Homo sapiens: one gene and its partner. The protein of the gene in region 1 purifies or fractionates together with the protein of each later gene. This does not show direct contact. Each region holds a gene or a part of one and is shown on either strand. Other genes may lie near its edges. The genes, in order: LILRB1 and PLTP.

Region 1 (4,413 bases):
TAGCATTTGTGGGATGCAAGACTTGTGTATATGAACGGCAGACTTTTCCTATATGCAGGCCCAGCAGAGACAATGTCGGGGCTGGAGTACGAGCAGGTGTTGGTGCATGTAGCGGGTACTGAAACGAATTGCCTGTGTATCCCAAGAAACAACTCTACTGAGAGATCATATTCTCTAGGGGTTTATTTTTGTTTTTATTTTTATTTTAAGTTAAAGCTTCGGGTAGAACACCCAGTGTCTCCTTGTCCATCTGAAGAAGATGCTGCTATGTGGAAGCACATCCTTGAGATCCACAAGGAGACACTGGGCAAGGAGACGAGGGTGCCCCACTGTGCAGAAGTCTCCCTAATAAATGATCTATGAACACCCTGGTGTTTAGTGCTTCTTTCTTTGGAATCCCAGCAGCTCTGTCACTGGACGGTTTGGTGCACTCCCTTGAGGGAATTCCCCTGGGCTGCTTGGGGTCCACTCCAGCCTCAGGTGTAGCTGGAGGACGCAGCCTCCCACCTTGGTCTGGAGCCCTGAGCCCCTCACTGTCATTGCAGATCCCGAGGTTCCTCTCCTGGCTCCACTCAGTGGTGGAAACCTCCACCCTAATGAGCCCTTGATGGTCCCAGGTCCCTGTGGCATCTCACCTGTGGCCTCTGTTCTTTCCTGTGGATCCATCTACACTTGGGAACTTCCACATCTCTTTTTCTGCTCATGACATTGATGCTCTGGGTATTTCAGAAATGCCCAGATAGATGGACAAATACACGTCCATCTATCCATTAGGGTCAGATGTGAGATCCAGAGTGGACACATCAATCACCTACGTAGACTGTGGAGTCCAACGCCAAGATCCTCTTATGTCCCAAACACCTCAGGTCTTACCCTGGTCTGGAAATCAGGCACAAATGAGCCCCTCCTAATGTTCCAGCACCACTGACCGTACAACCACTGTCACGAGTGGGATTTGTGACAACAGTCGGCAAAGGAAGAATCTGAGGCTCAGAGATGGTTCATTACCGCCCGAGGTCACGTAGGCAGTGGATGATAACCAGTCGTTGAATAAATATAACTCCCCCCCAACTCCCCAAATCAAAGCTCAAATATAAGTCATTGTTCCCAAAGCGTTGAACAGGGATTGAGGTGCAGAGGGACGGCCAAGTAAGCAAAGGGCACCGAGGAGGCAGGAAAGACTCAGAGATTTGTTCCCGGGGGGTGGGGTTGGACACTGTAGCAAAATATTTTAAAAAGGGGAAGTTAAGAGGGGACTATTTGGTTGAAAGAAAACCCACAATCCAGTGTCAAGAAAGAAGTCAACTTTTCTTCCCTATTTCCCTGCATTTCTCTTCTGTGCTCACTGCCACACGCAGCTCAGCCTGGGCGGCACAGCCAGATGCGAGATGCGTCTCTGCTGATCTGAGTCTGCCTGCAGCATGGACCTGGGTCTTCCCTGAAGCATCTCCAGGGCTGGAGGGACGACTGCCATGGTAAGGACCCCACAACACTGAGCTGATGGACGGCTGAAGGAGGGAGGGTGACCATGTGGGAGGCTGTGAGAAGGAAGGAGATGCCTCCGCTACCCTCGTCAGGAAGGGCAGACACAGGAAGGAACCAGTTTTATTTGCTGCTACATCCTGGCTCTCAGTGGGATGAAAACAAACCAGACAGACGGTGGCTGGGGGTCAGGAAAGGGCCCATTACCATCTGAAATGATGCAGAGGGCCTAGTGACTGCCCCCACCTCAGCCCTAATGGAATGAGAGCAAGGGTCCTGGGGAGGGCAGTTCCACTTCCTGTGTGGCTGCAGATGACAGCACCCCATGAGAAGAAGGACCCAGCCTCCGATTGGCCACACTCTGTGTGTCTCTCTATCCTGCCAGCACCGAGGGCTCATCCATCCACAGAGCAGGGCAGTGGGAGGAGACGCCATGACCCCCATCCTCACGGTCCTGATCTGTCTCGGTGAGATTTGAAGAAGGAGGGGAGCTTCTAACCTAAGAGGGACCTCACCCCACAGCCAAACTCTTGTCCCTAAGGAGACCCCAGGGGCTCACAAAGATCCCAGGGAGGGGAGGACCTGCCCAGGCTTCAGGGGGCAAATCCCTCACCGGGAACTCTCTTCCAGGGCTGAGTCTGGGCCCCCGGACCCACGTGCAGGCAGGTGAGTCTGTCCCCAGCTCTTCCAGGTCCCTCCTCCTCACTGGGGACAAGGGGCCACCCCCGTGCCGCTGGGGATGGGGAATAGCAGTTCTGGGCTGACTGATGGGGGCGTCTGGAGGGTCCTGGGCTGAGAGCTGGAATCTGCTGGGTTGGGTGGGAAATGAGTTAGAATCTGACTCCTGATTTCCTTCCAGGGCACCTCCCCAAGCCCACCCTCTGGGCTGAACCAGGCTCTGTGATCACCCAGGGGAGTCCTGTGACCCTCAGGTGTCAGGGGGGCCAGGAGACCCAGGAGTACCGTCTATATAGAGAAAAGAAAACAGCACCCTGGATTACACGGATCCCACAGGAGCTTGTGAAGAAGGGCCAGTTCCCCATCCCATCCATCACCTGGGAACACACAGGGCGGTATCGCTGTTACTATGGTAGCGACACTGCAGGCCGCTCAGAGAGCAGTGACCCCCTGGAGCTGGTGGTGACAGGTGAGCTGACACTCAGGGGTCCCAGCCCCAGACTCTGCCCTCAGGAAGGGGGACGGCTCTCAGGGGCTTCTCCCTCTCACAGCCCAGCCCTGGGGATGACGCGGGTGGTCTGAGCCACATTTAACACGGTGCCTCCTTCTCTCCTAGGAGCCTACATCAAACCCACCCTCTCAGCCCAGCCCAGCCCCGTGGTGAACTCAGGAGGGAATGTAACCCTCCAGTGTGACTCACAGGTGGCATTTGATGGCTTCATTCTGTGTAAGGAAGGAGAAGATGAACACCCACAATGCCTGAACTCCCAGCCCCATGCCCGTGGGTCGTCCCGCGCCATCTTCTCCGTGGGCCCCGTGAGCCCGAGTCGCAGGTGGTGGTACAGGTGCTATGCTTATGACTCGAACTCTCCCTATGAGTGGTCTCTACCCAGTGATCTCCTGGAGCTCCTGGTCCTAGGTGAGAAATTCACAGCATTGCCTGGAGTTCCCTGAGTCTCCAGGCAGGTGGGGAGCAGCCGCGTCTCAGGGCAGTTCCAGGTGGGATGATGTTGGGGCGAGAGGGCTCAGGGCTCCTGGGGCCAGAGACACAGGAAGATCAGCAGTGATGTGGCCCCGGGGGAAAGGGAAGATTTGTGGGGAAGCCTGAGGGTCGGCTCCTGGAAACCATGACCACCTTTTCCCAGGTGTTTCTAAGAAGCCATCACTCTCAGTGCAGCCAGGTCCTATCGTGGCCCCTGAGGAGACCCTGACTCTGCAGTGTGGCTCTGATGCTGGCTACAACAGATTTGTTCTGTATAAGGACGGGGAACGTGACTTCCTTCAGCTCGCTGGCGCACAGCCCCAGGCTGGGCTCTCCCAGGCCAACTTCACCCTGGGCCCTGTGAGCCGCTCCTACGGGGGCCAGTACAGATGCTACGGTGCACACAACCTCTCCTCCGAGTGGTCGGCCCCCAGCGACCCCCTGGACATCCTGATCGCAGGTGAGGAGCCCAGCGGGTTCAGTCAGGGACCCAGGCTCCGCACAGGCCCTGCCGGGGGAGCTCAGGTAGTGATGGCCGGGATGAGGGATGGGGGTCCCAAGGGAGGGAGAGACAGACAGAGACAGGGGATGGGCGGGGAGGGGGAGACTCAGAGAAAACAGAGACAGAGACACTGAGGGTCCCAGAGGGAGACCTGGGGAGGTGTCAGCTCAGAGCAAGGTGGGGCAGCCCCTCGCCCATCCTTCTTCTCTCCAGGACAGTTCTATGACAGAGTCTCCCTCTCGGTGCAGCCGGGCCCCACGGTGGCCTCAGGAGAGAACGTGACCCTGCTGTGTCAGTCACAGGGATGGATGCAAACTTTCCTTCTGACCAAGGAGGGGGCAGCTGATGACCCATGGCGTCTAAGATCAACGTACCAATCTCAAAAATACCAGGCTGAATTCCCCATGGGTCCTGTGACCTCAGCCCATGCGGGGACCTACAGGTGCTACGGCTCACAGAGCTCCAAACCCTACCTGCTGACTCACCCCAGTGACCCCCTGGAGCTCGTGGTCTCAGGTGGGGGCCTTGACCCTGTCCTCTCTGAGCTCAAAGTCTCAGCTCAGACCCTGCCCCAGGAGAGCTCTGGGCTGGGATGGAGTGAGCGGGGGTCTGAGAGGGGCTCAGCCAGTGGGAGACTCACCCTCAGAGGGAAGGAGGAGAACAGGGCCCTCCCAGGCCTGCCCACCCTCAGTGGCATCGCCAGCATCATGGACAGGAGAGGCGGGTGGAGGGAGGGGCCTGGGGAGGCCACAGGTCCCATGTAGAGAAA
Region 2 (3,808 bases), on another chromosome or scaffold:
CATACTCATGCTTCTTTGCCAAGTACTCTAAGCTCTTCACATAGATCGACTTCTTTAATCTGCATAACAACGTGTGTTTTCTTACTAGATTATTTCCATTTACATGTTAGGAAACTGGCCAACTGAAAACTTATGCTTAGGGCCGTGCAGCTAGTCAGTGGCAGAGCTAGGATTTGAACTTCAGGCATTCTTTTTCTCTTTGTAGAGAAGGAGGTCTCACTATGATGCCCAAGCTGGTCTCAAACTCCTGGGCTCAAGCGATCCTCTCGCCTGGGCCTCCCAAAGTATTGGGATTACAGGCATGAGCCACTGCACCCGACTGATTCTAGCTCCCGAGTCTGCACTCTGAAACTGCTATACTCCTCTGGGAGACCAAAGGTAGTGGCTACACACTGGCTATGTGGCCTTGGGCAAGTGACGTCACCTCTATGAGTAAGTCTCCACATTCCTAAAATTAGGATGATGTTAGTACCTGACTCACAGGGTTGTGAGAGAATGAAATGAGATTATTTGTATAGAAATTTATGTCCAGCTCCTTCGGGGGAGTTGGGGAAAGGCCGTGCATGAGCAAAGGCCCTGAGGTGGGAAGCCAGGGTCCAATTTGGGAAAGAGCAGCTGCAAAGAAACAGGATGAGATATAAAAGGTGGGGCCAGGTAAGATTAACAGGGGCTCAAATGCCAGACCCAGGAGGCTGAACCTAATTCTGTAGTAACAGGGAGCCATAGCATTCTCAGTAATGGGAGTGGCCTCATCAGAGCTGTGCTTTAAGAAGTAAAATCTTGCAACTTAGCAGAGAAAGAGGTCTTGTTAGGAAGTCAGAGGTCATACACCAGCCCAAGCAGCTCACCCGGAAGTCCATGTCCAGGTTGCTGGTGGAAGCCACAGGATCCTTCATGAGGGAATAGTCAATGCCAACAAGCTCGTCCACAGAACTGCGCACTGCAGGAAGGGGCTCAAGTCACTCACGGCTGTGTGATGTGGGATAAGGTGCTTAACCTCTCCAGGCTCAGAGGCCCACCCATAAAATGAGGATACATCCTTCACAGGGTTGTCATGAGGGTCAAATTAGTTTTATGTGGAAAGCACTTAGGGCCTGGTGTGTAGTTAGGTGCTCATTAATGTTAGTTATTATTATTACTACCACTATAGAGGTTTCAAAAAAATAACTAAACAAGATGGCATGGGGGGGCCGCGCATGGTGGCTCACACCTGTAATCCCAGCACTTAGGGAGGTCAAGGCGGGCGGATCACCTGAGGTCAGGTGTTCGAGACCAGCCTGGTCCACCACGGTGAAACCCCGTCTCTACTAAAAATACAAAAATTAGTTGGGCATGGTGGTGGGCGCCTGTAATCCCAGCTACTCAGGAGGCTGAGGCAGGAGAATCGCTTGATCCTGGGAGGTGGAGGTTGCAGGGAGCCAGGATTGCACCACTGCACTCCAGCCTGGGTGACAGAGCGAGACTCCATCTCAAAAAAAAAAAAAAAAAAAAAAGATGGCATGAGGTTCCTTTCCCTTGGTTTCTCCTACCTCCTCCTTCGCTTCCCATGCCTGTGTGTTAGGTGTGATGGGAAAATACCTTTGCCCCACAGTAGACAGAGGTCATGGCTTAGAAAAAGGGAATTCATGGCCAGGCACAGTGGCTCATGCCTATAATCCCAGCACTTTGGGAGGCCAAGGTGGGCAGATCAGGAGGTCAGGAGATCGAGACCATCCCGGCCAACATGGTGAAACCCCGTCTCTACTAAAACACAAAAAACTAGTTGGGCATGGTGGTGCACGCCTGTAGTCCCAGCTACTCGAGATGCTGAGGCAGGAGAATTGCTTGAACCCGGGAGGTGGAGATTGCAGTGAGCTGAGATCGCGCCACTGGACTCCAGCCTGGCAACAGAGTGAGACTGTAAGACTCCGTGCAAAAAAAAAAAAAAAAGAAAGAAAAAGAAAAAGGGAATTCATGTTAATTGAGCACCTATTAGATGCTAGGTGATGAAGACAAATGGGATGCCAGTGATCAGCATGCACATATTGAGGACCTTGACAACTATTCTCTCAGATAATCCTCACAGCAACCCCAGGAGGAGGCACTGCCAGCCAAGTGAGGAAACAAGCACTTTGCCCAGACAGAAATGAGCACTTCACCCAAAATCGCACAACAAGTCAGCTCCAGGGGCCACATTTGAACCCAGGACTGTTCAACAGCAGGGCTCGGAAGGGGCCTGCTCTGAGGTGCTGCATGACAGCTGCACACCCAGACTCACCCGCCACCAACTCACCAGGCACGGTGTCCAGGAGGGAGTTGAGCAGGACCGTCCCTGCGTGGTAGAGGACAGGGCAGATCTGCGAGGTGGGAGCCAGAGTCAGGGCCTTCTCAAAGTGAGAGCATGCCCACCCTTGCCACCCTGCGACCTGTCGCTGCCCACACCTGCTGGTTGAGGAGGAAGCGCATCCCTGAGGTGATGAACGTGGAGAGAAAATCATACACCTTCCTGTGAGGAGAGGAGAGGCCGGATGAGCCCAGAACCTGCCTCCACCCCAGTCCAGGTCCAGGAGAAATCAGTGACTAGGGAAATAGTGGCAGTAGGAGTCCTCAGCTTCAGCCTGAATAACAGCTCCTCCACGTAGGTTTTCCAAGAACCAGGCCCAAATTCCCTCTCCAGTCTAATTCTCAAGACCTCCTGACCTACTCTCTGGTCCCATCAGTCAAATGAATCCACCCACATTGCCTCAAACCCACTCTGAGCATCCCCACATCCATCGGCTTACTGATGCCCTCCCTTCCGCCCTCTGCATTCCTACTCTGTATTTTCCCATCTGAGCTCAGATGCTTCCTCTTCCAGGCAGTCTTCCCAGATTCCCCTCCTCTGAATCCCCAAAGCATTTTCTTAGTCCTTCTCTCCAGGCCCTGATATCAAATGTTTTTTGCTCCAGATAGGCTCTGAGCTCCTTCCTGCATCCTCAGGGACTGGCATACACTTTGTTTGATGAATAAATAATACTGACAGTGTACCAACACCAGGTTATAATCCATCATCTTCTCTCCCCCATCCTCTTCCAGAACAAGAACAATATCCCCTTCTCAGCAGCAAAAATAAAAAAATAGGCCGGGCACAGTTGCTCAGGCCTGTAATCCCAGCACTTTGGTAGGCCGAGGCGGACAGACCACCTGAGATCAGGAGTTTGAGACCAGCGTGGCCAATATGGCGAAACCCTGTCTCTACTAAAAATACAAAAAAAGTAGTTGGGCATGGTGGTGCATGCCTGTAGTCCCAGCTACTTGGGAGGCTGAGGCAGGAGAATCGTTTGAACCCAGGAGGTGGAGGTTGCAGTAAACCGAGATGGCGCCACTGCACTCCAGGCTGGGTGACACAGTGAGACTCCCTCTCAAAAAAAAAATTATTATTTTTGTTATTATTATTTAGAGATACCAATTATTGAGAATCCAGTACATGGCCAAATGTGCATATCAGATAGTCCTCACAGTTACTCTTATCTAAGTGGCCAGCACTTAAATATACATTTATCATATGCCAGGTGCTGTTCTAAATTTTTTTTTTTTTTTTTTTTTGAGATGGAATCTTGCTCTGTCACCAGGCTGGAGTGCAGTGGCACGATCTCAGCTCACTGCAACCTCCGCCTCCCGGGTTCAAGCGATTCTCCTGCCTCAGCCTCCCACGTAGCTGGGACTACAGGCACGTGCCACCACGCCCAGCTAATTTTTGTATTTTTAGTAGAGATGGGGTTTCACCATGTTGGCCAGGATGATCTCGATCTGTTAACCTTGTGATCCGCCCGCCCAGACCTCCCAAATT

Evidence for each region.
Region 2: the proteins of LILRB1 (region 1) and PLTP purify together in Homo sapiens (co-immunoprecipitation; one large-scale study listed by IntAct). This does not show direct contact.

The regions. Positions count from the first base shown.
Region 1 is NC_000019.10:54,629,159-54,633,571, forward strand, and holds the start of LILRB1 (leukocyte immunoglobulin-like receptor subfamily B member 1 isoform 2 precursor), read left to right. Parts: upstream 1-1,325; 5' UTR 1,326-1,472; coding exon of another isoform or gene 1,473-1,475; intron 1,476-1,794; exon of another isoform or gene 1,795-1,807; coding exon of another isoform or gene 1,808-1,915; coding exon 1,916-1,949; intron 1,950-2,112; coding exon 2,113-2,148; intron 2,149-2,341; coding exon 2,342-2,629; intron 2,630-2,776; coding exon 2,777-3,079; intron 3,080-3,305; coding exon 3,306-3,602; intron 3,603-3,857; coding exon 3,858-4,160; intron 4,161-4,413.
Region 2 is NC_000020.11:45,905,420-45,909,227, forward strand, and holds part of PLTP (phospholipid transfer protein isoform a precursor), read right to left. Parts: intron 2,486-3,808; coding exon 2,422-2,485; intron 2,337-2,421; coding exon 2,273-2,336; intron 941-2,272; coding exon 849-940; intron 1-848. UniProt on the Homo sapiens protein: Mediates the transfer of phospholipids and free cholesterol from triglyceride-rich lipoproteins (low density lipoproteins or LDL and very low density lipoproteins or VLDL) into high-density lipoproteins (HDL) as well as the exchange of phospholipids between triglyceride-rich lipoproteins themselves.